Regions from separate parts of the Homo sapiens genome. Here region 2 is linked to region 1. Evidence: fine-mapped expression QTL. A gene starts in region 1. The other region holds a variant in brackets. All regions are shown on one strand. Distances are from middle to middle.

Region 1 (4,382 bases):
TTTAATAAACCCATGAGGTGGCTCTAGCGCCCTGAGACCTTTGACCTCTCTCCCGTTTCCCCTCAGCCTCAAAAAACAAACAACAAACAAAAAAAACCCAGCAACTCAGGCTCCTTCTGGCGCTACCGGAAAAACAAAAACGAACAAACAAAAAGCCCCTGATCCCTCCTGGACCCAGCTGCCAGGACACAGTGGAGAAGCCACTGTGATTTGTGATTAGAAGTCTCGCACCGAGCGGCACAATGTATTTCCTCCCCAAACCACGGGCTCAATTCCCTCCCCCATCCAGCCGCGCCCGCCACCGCCTGGTTTTGCCCCTGTGGTGGCACCGTCAGCCAAGGGCCTCGCGCCCTCTCCCCAGCTGTGCGTCCCACCTCTCTCGGCGCCCAAGGGAAACCTGGACATCTTTGGGGACCCGGAGAGCCGGCGAGTGATTGCTGGGACACGGCTGGAGCCGGGAGAGAGTAGCACTACGCCCCCTCCCTCCCTCCTCTCTCTACCCCTCACCCTCCGGGGCTAAATGCTGCTAGCTCAAAAACCCACAGTCCGCACGGGGTGGGGATTGGGGACAAGTGGGAGAAAACGGGGGCCCCGTCCGTGGTGCTGAAGACAAGCACGCAAGCCGCATCGCAGGCTTCTGAGCCGGGGCAAGGGGTAGGGTGTACTGTCGCGGTGCTTCCTGGGGAGTCCGGGAAGGCTTCCCAAGCGGCAGCTGTCTGGGGCGCTAACAACAGCCGTTACAAGGAAGTCCCTGAAATCCAGGGAACCCTTCGGAGAGGCCCGGAAGGCAGAAGCAGAAAATTCTGTCTCTCGGGGGATGGGGCTGGATCCCAAGAGCCAGAGACAGGGAAAGCAGAGGACAGTTGAAGCCACAGAACTGAGAGGCCCCGCTATCTGTCCCTCCAAGCAGCCCGAAGTACATGCAGCCGCCACTTCTGCCTACCACCTCCGGACAGCCCGAGCACCCCTGAGGCCAGTAACCCCCCTACGGGGCCAGGGCCCGGCACGAGGCGTCGGCTGACCTGTATGGTTTGTCTGTTGTAGACTTTTACCACGTGGAAGTTAAAACTGTAGATCCCTTTGCGCGGGGCGATGAAAGTGCTGCGTTCTGAATCAAAGTTGTTCCCAATGTTCACTAGTACCTATAACGAGACGGGAACGAAGGGGAGTGGGCAGGAATCGGTCCCGGACTGTCGTCCCCGCGCCTCCGCAGAGCCCTTGGAGAGGACCGGGCATCGGTCTTCCATCCATCCCTCCTTCACCAGCCCAATCTGCACGCCGCGGGAGGAAGGAACACTCACCTGGTCGAAGTAGATGATCATGGTGCGATTACTCATCTCGGACGGCTCGTGGTTGGTGCTCCTGATGGCAGAGAAAGCCACCTTGGCGCTGCCAGAGCGCACAGAGATGCCCAGGGCAGTGCCCGTGGGGTCGGACGTGGGGTTGGAGTCGCACACCACCAGGCACTTGCCCTCCAGCACGATGGGCTCCGTCTCATTCTGCCCGCGGGCCGGGCCCGCCAGCCACGCAGCCCCCAGCAGCAGCAGCTCCAGGACGCCCAGCATCGCGCCGCCGGCGCCCACCCCGCCCCCCACCCCCAGGGCTGCTCGCGCCAGCCGCCCCCCCCGTCCCAGTCCCGCTCCGAAGCCCCCTCCTCAGCTCCGTGCGCAGCTCCGCCGCCGCCGCTCTGGACACTACACCTCTTCCTCGCACTCCGGGACTAGCGTCCCCTCCGCGACTAGCGTCCCCTCCGCGCTGTGTTCCCGGAGCCCCTCCCGGGCCTCAGGGGTGCCGCGGCTGCCCAGCCGCACTTGGATGCATAGCCGCTGCTGCTCGGTCCCGCTGCTGCCGCCGCCTCCTGCCCGCACCCGCCGCTGCCGCCGCCGCCGCCGCTCTGAATTATTGATGCAGCCGGCGCTGCAGCCGGAGCGGGCGGAGAGCGCGCGCCGGGCACAAAGGCGCGGACCTCGGCCTGGCCCCGCCCCCGCCGCCTCCCGGCCCGCCTCCCTCCGAGGCCCTGCCCCCGCCCCGGCCGAGGCCACGCCCCCCAGCCAATCCTGACGCGCCGCGCTCCCCACCGAGCCAATGGCGGCGCTGTCCGCGCTCGGCCACCTGACCCCGGGCGCCGTTGTTATTAGGCGCGGCGAGGCGGGTGGCGCGCGGCAGCAGGGTTGGGCTCTCGCCGTGAGTCGACGAAGGGAGCGCGGGCGCGCGCCCGCGTCCGCGCACTGAGAGTCGCCTCGGCCGCTCGCTTTCTCGACTCCCGCCTCGCGCCTCGATCCTGTTCCGCCTCCCTCGGCCCTCCTGCCCGCCCCCACTCGTCGGCCCTCAGGTAGGAGGCGGCGCGCCCCGGGGTCGGGAGTGGAATCGCTGGAGGCTGCGAGTCGCCTGCCCGCCTGTGGGCGCGCCCGTTGGGAGGGGAGCGCCCCCCAGCGGGCGCGGGCGCGAGGGCAGCCGGCGCGCTGGGCGAGCCTGGCTCAGGGTCCCGGCGGCCGGGGTGCAGGGCGCGTGCGCGCGCGGCGGGGCGGGGCCTGCGCGGCTCTGGCGGGCGCACGTGGTGCCCGGGAGCTGCTGGGCGGGCACTCACCGCGGGGACTCGGTGCGGAGCCGGGGCGCCGAGTGTCTCCGTGTCCCTCTGCCCCAGCCGGCGGCCGCGATGGTGGAGCTTGGCCTCTCGCTCTCTCCCGCCTCTCCAGCGACTGCTCTGCCGGCCGCGGAGGTCGGATCGAGCGGTCATTCATTCATTTGTTAATTCGTTCACTTATTCAGGGGAGATCATTGAACCCCTACGGAGTACCGGGTACTGGGCCGGGCGCTGAGGACGCGGGGCTGAGCAAAAGCAGCCGAGGCCCACCTTCGTGCCCCTTAAAACCCAGCGTGCGGGGCGGCAACGAGTACTGCTTTTCTGTTTTGCACTTAAAATTTACATTTTGCATCCGTACTTTTTATTTACTGTGCACCCTTACGGCATGCTTTACGCACCCGTACCTGCACCTCCTAGCCTTGAGTGTAGACACCAGATCCTGAGATGGGCGATTTTTCGAGAATAATTTTTACCCTAAGTGGATTTTCGTGCCACGCATGGACTTGGAACTACACACACGTAGTCCAAAACGTGAAAGTCAAAATGCAGCTTTGCCAAGTGGCAGGGAGAAAGGAGAGCTGAGAAGATGAGGAGAGGAAGGGCGCGCTCCAGGCTTTCCAGCCCGGGTGCGGTAGACGTAGCCCTGAAGGATGAACCCAGGCTGGTAGTAGGGCGGCGGGAGGGCGGGGGGACCTGTCAGTCAAGTCCAAAGCAGAAACGCGGCGCCGGATCCCAGTCAGAGGCCGGCTGGAACGCTTCCCACAGGCTCCTGGCGCTCCGGTCCCCACCAGGCGACCTTGATCCTGGCGTGCTCAGCGGAGCCAGCGCAGCGTCGGGAGCTGGAGAGACGCGGGGCGCCGGCTGAGCGCTCCTGCCCTCTGCCTCTGGGCTAGCCTCTGGCCCGGCCTCCCGGCCTCCCCCAGGGTACGCTCTCCCCCAAGAGCGAACACCAGCTTTGGGATCGCCAGCAGCCACGTCTCTGCTTCTAGATCTCTTTTTTTTTTCTTTGAGACTTAGTTGATAGCTGTTTAAGGAATTATGTGGAGGAAATCTCACCTCCGACCCCCGCCCCCGTTGAGCACGGCCGGCCAGGGTCGCTGGGTGGGCCAGGAGGAAAGAAAGGGGCGGGGAAGAAGCAGCAATTTTACTTTAAATTAAAATGACACAAAAATATTTTTTCAACTCAGATCTTTCTGAGACATCCCCAGAAAGCGTTGCAAGCTGTGATTACACCTAATGTGAGAGCATGAACTAATTTAAGAGGTGAGAGCTGCATAATGAGGCTGCCTCCCGTGTAGCAGCCAAGACTGGCAGCTCTGGCGGCGCGCTGGAGGGGACCGGGAGGGGCACCCTTGTAGAACCAGTCCCTGGCGCCCTGGGATCTTCTCAGTGCCCTGGCGCTGTGTTGTCGGTCACTCCACAGATATTACAGGGTGCCTCCTGAATGCCGGGTTGCAATCAAGAGCAAGAGATGGGGCGAGTGAAAGAGCCTGTTTTCAGGAGCTCAGCATCAGGATGACGATTACCTAGAGGGAGGTGGTGGCCAGCCTCCCCCTCTTCTCTTCATGCTGAGGCTCTGGTGGGCAGTGCCCAAGCCTGAACTGCCATCTGTATGCCAGTGGTTACCCAACTTGTATTTTCAGTCTTAGCCTCTCTCTGGTCCAGACTTGTCATTCTAAGGGCCCTTTTTCACTGACTCACATTGTCTCCTCCCTCCCTGCCTTCCAAACTCAGCCTTTTCCTTTTTCCCTTTCCCACTGACAACAGCTGCACGACCCCCCCGCCCCCCCACGAGGTG
Region 2 (4,382 bases), 310 kb before region 1:
CCTTCAGCCCAAAATGAAGGCTGGAGGGAACCAGGGTTTCAGTGCTGGAGGAGGGGACAGCAGCTGTTCTAGCCTGTGCAGGGAAAGACTCATCTCTTTTTGGCCAGAACAGACCTCTGGGCCCAGGACGCCACCCCTGCTTCTCATCACAGCCCGAGTCCCTGCTGATAATCAGGTGTGGATGTAGGCTCCAAGGGGAAGCTTGTCCAATTGTGGGATCCTCTTTAAGAAAAAAGAACACGAAATTAGATATGAAAGTGAATATTGATTTAGAGCAAAAAAAAAAAGAAATAATGAAAAAAACAGTTTAAAAGCTGACTTAGATAGTGCTAGTGGCTTCCTGAAAGCTATACAGCACCACAGATGGGCACCACAAACATCAGAAAATCCAAAAAATAGCATGACGTTTGTATTCATTAACTGCTGACACACCTCTAAAATATTTTCCAAATTCTCTCTATGTATTGGCTTTATACTCTTTGATTGCCTCTTCCCATGACAATGATTATGTGTCTATAGGGAAATTAGAAAGATCCTTTTGCAGAAAAAAACTTCCATTTTGATGAGGCATCAGCAAAAGCCAGCTTCTTCATTTCCCATTGCACATGTCTGAGGATTAGGGGCACAAGCCACAGACTAGCTTCTAGGACCTACACTTTCTCACTCTTTTCTGGGGTCGAGTGCATTTGGGCCTGTTCATCTCATGATGTGACCTCTGGCCTTGTTTCTTCATGTCATGACACAAAGGGAGCGAGTAGAGATATTCCTGGAAGTCATGCCTACACCAGAACAGCTGGCAAAAGCTAAAGTCTCCATGAGATCAATTGAAAACTGTGTAAATATATCCCCTTATGTTCATGCTAGATGTAACTCTGACACAACCTCTTCCCAGTCAGATCCCCAAATGCCCACACTTTCCCAACATCGCCTGGCAGGAGCACATGGCCGGGGAAAGAAATAGCGGAGTCAGCTGATGTGGTTCAAATACCTTGCTTTTGCAGGTTGTACAAAAACATCTGAACATGTGAGCCCATTGCTAGTGCCTCTCCTGGGGCCCTGAAAAGGGTCAGTACATGTGAGGACCCTGGAAAGGGTCAGTGTGAATGAGGGTCCTGAAAAGGGTCAGTGCATGTGAGGGCCCTGGGAAGGGTCAGTGCGAGTGAGGGCCCTGGGAAGGGTCAGTGCTTGTGAGGGCCCTGGGAAGGGTCAGTGCGAGTGAGGGCCCTGGGAAGGGTCAGTGCGAGTGAGGGCCCTGGGAAGGGTCAGTGCGAGTGAGGGCCCTGGGAAGGGTCAGTGCGAGTGAGGGCCCTGGGAAGGGTCAGTGCGAGTGAGGGCCCTGGGAAGGGTCAGTGCTTGTGAGGGCCCTGGAAAGGATCAGTGTTAGTGAGGGCCCTGGGGCTTCATCAGCATCATGGTGACTTCCCTTCCATTAGCAAACAAGCTCTGCCAACTCTTTTGGTTCTCCTCTCCTCCACCTCAAAGCTTCTCAGGGTTGGCAGAGTGGAATTCCGATTCCCAGCCCTGGCACAGGCTGGCTGTGGAGCTTTCAGGAAGCCACTAGCCTTATCTAAGCCACAACCACCCTACCTAGATGATGAGAAAACTCCAGTTGCGAAGAGAAGATGAGTTTTCTCCCTTCCATTGGATGCATCTTTTGCAAAGGGAAGAGCAGAATCAGGCTGAATAAGAAACAGCACCATTTTAGGAGCTGCAACTGACCTTTGAGATGACTTAGCTCAGTATTTCCCAAAGACTATTCTGTGGAACACTGGTCAGCTGTTCAGACAACAAAATGTATTGAACACCTGCTATATAGCAGACACTGGTCTAGGCCATACAATCATAGCAGTGAATAACAAGACAAGGCCTCTGCCCTCACCAAGGTTATATTTTAGTGAGGGGGTGGGGAAGGGAAGACCTTTGAAAAAAATAATACTGTTTCAGGTAAGGATAAATGGCTTGGAGAAGACAGTAAACCAAGGCTAGAATGGAGGTTGAGGCTGCTAAAGCAGGTCTGGGGTGGTGACATTTGAGTTGAGGCCTGGATCATGAGGGACAGCCGTGAGAAGCCCTACCAAAGGGGTGATCAGGTGGGACCCTGTCCACAGCAGTCCTTGCATGTTTGCAGGGCAGACAGAGGCCAGTTGTGCTGCAGCACAGAGGATAATAGAGGATAAGAAGAGATGAGTTTGGTAAGGGAGCTGGAGCCAGCGTGCAGGGCCTTAATCCCAGGTAAGGAGTTGGGATTTTATTCAAATGGAGCTGAGAAGCCATTGGAGGGTTTCAAACAGGGGTATGATGTGATCTGTGGTGAATTTTCACAAGATTATTCTCACTGCAAGAAGAGTCTTTTATATGGATTTAAGAGCACAGCTGAGACCAGTTCAGAGACCATTGTGTCAGTCAAGAGAGATTAGGGTCGCCGCGCTAGG[T/G]TTATAGAGGTGAAGGTAGAGAAAAATGGTTGGATTCAGGATGTATTTTGGAGGCAAAACCAACATGATTAATATTTGAACTGGCTGTGGAGTGCAAGAAAAATGAAGAATTCAAGGATGACGCCTAGGTTTTTATTTTATTGGTCTGAAAAGCTGGGTCAATTTTGGTGCCATCTGAAGGTTGAGGAATGTTGAAGGTCAGGGTTTCCATGTTGGAGCAGCTGATTTGGGAGGTACACATTGCTGTGTAACAAATTACCCGAAAATGTAGTGACTTCAAACCACAATAATGATTGATTGTTCTAACAGCTTCTGTGTGTTAGGGATTTGGGGTGCTTGCTCAGGGTGTCTGATGAGGCTGCAGCCTTTTGAAAGCCTGATTGATGCTGGAGATCTGCTTCCAAGGCATCTGTCTCACATGGCTGGCAATTTGGTGGACATCTCAGTTCTTCCCTGGGCCCCTCCAGGGGGACTGAATGAATGTGTTTATGACATGATGGCTGGCATCCCCAGAGGGAGCAAGGTGGAAGCTGCAAAGTTCTTTATGGCCTAGTCTTGCAAGTGACATGCAGTGACTTCTGCGATATCCCATTGGTCACACATGTCAGCCCTATTCAATGTACGAGGGGACCACACAGGGGCCTGAGACATCCATGCCCTTTCTTTGCACATCTACTGACCTGTTTCAGCTGCAAGTGACAGAAAACACAGTTCAAGCCAGCTTAAAATGAAAAGAAATTTATTGGCTTACACAAAAGGGAAGTCCAATGGAGGAGAGATGCCCGTTTTGTGGAGCTCAGATGGTGTCGTCAGAACTCAGTATTTATTCTTTTCTTTTCTTGGCTCCCATTCTTACATGGGCCAACTCCTGAAGATGGTGAGGTGGCAGCAGTCTCGTTAGCTTCATAGTCTCACAATGCCAAGTCAAGCTGAGAAGACAGCCTTTCTTTCCCAAGAGTTTGAACAAAACGTCCCAGACCTAATGACCATTCCTACTGACTGACTTAAAAGCCAGGATGAGGCAGGGCGCAATGGCTCACACCTGTAATCCCAGCACTTTGGGAGGCCGAGGCGGATTACTTGAGGTCAGGAGTTCAAGACCAGCTTGGCCAACATGGTAAAACCCCATCTCTACTAAAAATACAAAAATTAGCTGGGCATGGTGGCACACACCTGTAATCCCAGCTATTGGGGAGGCTGAAGCAGGAGAATCGCTTGAACCCAGGAGGTGGAGGTTGCAGTGAGCTGAGCTCGCATCATTGCACTCCAGCCTGGGCAACAGAGAGAGACTCTGTCTCAAAAAAAAAAACAAAAAAAAACCCAGGGTAACACTGAAATTTCATGGAGATAGGAAGTGGGGCCAGATCTCCCAAAACACATGGATCAAGAGAGAGACAGAGCTGTCTCTGTGTTCTGCAGACACTGTGGTGGGAGAAATCAAGTGCTCATCCATATGGAGCTCACAGTCTGGTGGGAGAACAGATACATGCATATATGAATAATTAACATACGGGTGAGAAGTGCCATGCGAAAGGGGCCAGAGTGTGCTTCAAGAGGACCTGAGAGAGGCACCTGATTCTGCTTTGGAGATGGCTCTCTGGGTGAGGTCACACCTGAACTGAGTCTAGTGGTGTAAGAAATCACTGCATGAGCAAAAGTCGAGTCAAGAAATAGCAGAGTGGGGGTGAGTGGAGGACTACAGCCAGTTCTCTGTTTTTAGAGGGTTACAGCAGAAGTGACAGAGAAATGATCTGGCCTGGGAAGCTAGGCTTGGACCACTGCCAGGCTTGGGTCACCCCAAAATGCATGTGTTGGAAACTTAATCCCCAAAGCAACAGTGTTGAGAGGCAGGGCCCAGTGGGAGGTGTTTAGATCATGCGGGCTCCACGCTCATGAATGGATTAATGCTGGTTATAAAATGGTTTGAGGCTGCAAGTTTGATCTCTTGCT

What was found. PIP is the estimated chance that this variant, and not a neighbour inherited with it, causes the effect. A credible set is the group of variants that fine-mapping cannot tell apart.
Region 2: its variant is the best candidate, but not a certain one, in a credible set for the expression of CBLN1 in skeletal muscle (GTEx, PIP 0.76).

The regions. Positions count from the first base shown.
Region 1 is chr16:49,279,901-49,284,282 of GRCh38, forward strand. CBLN1 (cerebellin 1 precursor) reads right to left here and starts at 1,938. Exons shown (of 3, transcript NM_004352.4): 1 at 1,302-1,938; 2 at 1,023-1,142. The coding sequence starts at 1,565. It overlaps SYNAGE (synapse stability regulating cerebellar lncRNA), which reads left to right and starts at 2,162. Exons shown (of 4, transcript XR_933530.4): 1 at 2,162-2,332. RefSeq lists an enhancer at 1,042-1,659 and silencers at 2,012-2,121, 2,492-2,591.
Region 2 is chr16:48,965,660-48,970,041 of GRCh38, forward strand. No RefSeq gene overlaps it. Among named protein-coding and RNA genes, the nearest start is that of CBLN1, 310 kb to the right of the region's middle. The variant T/G (reference allele first, on the strand shown) is at 2,433.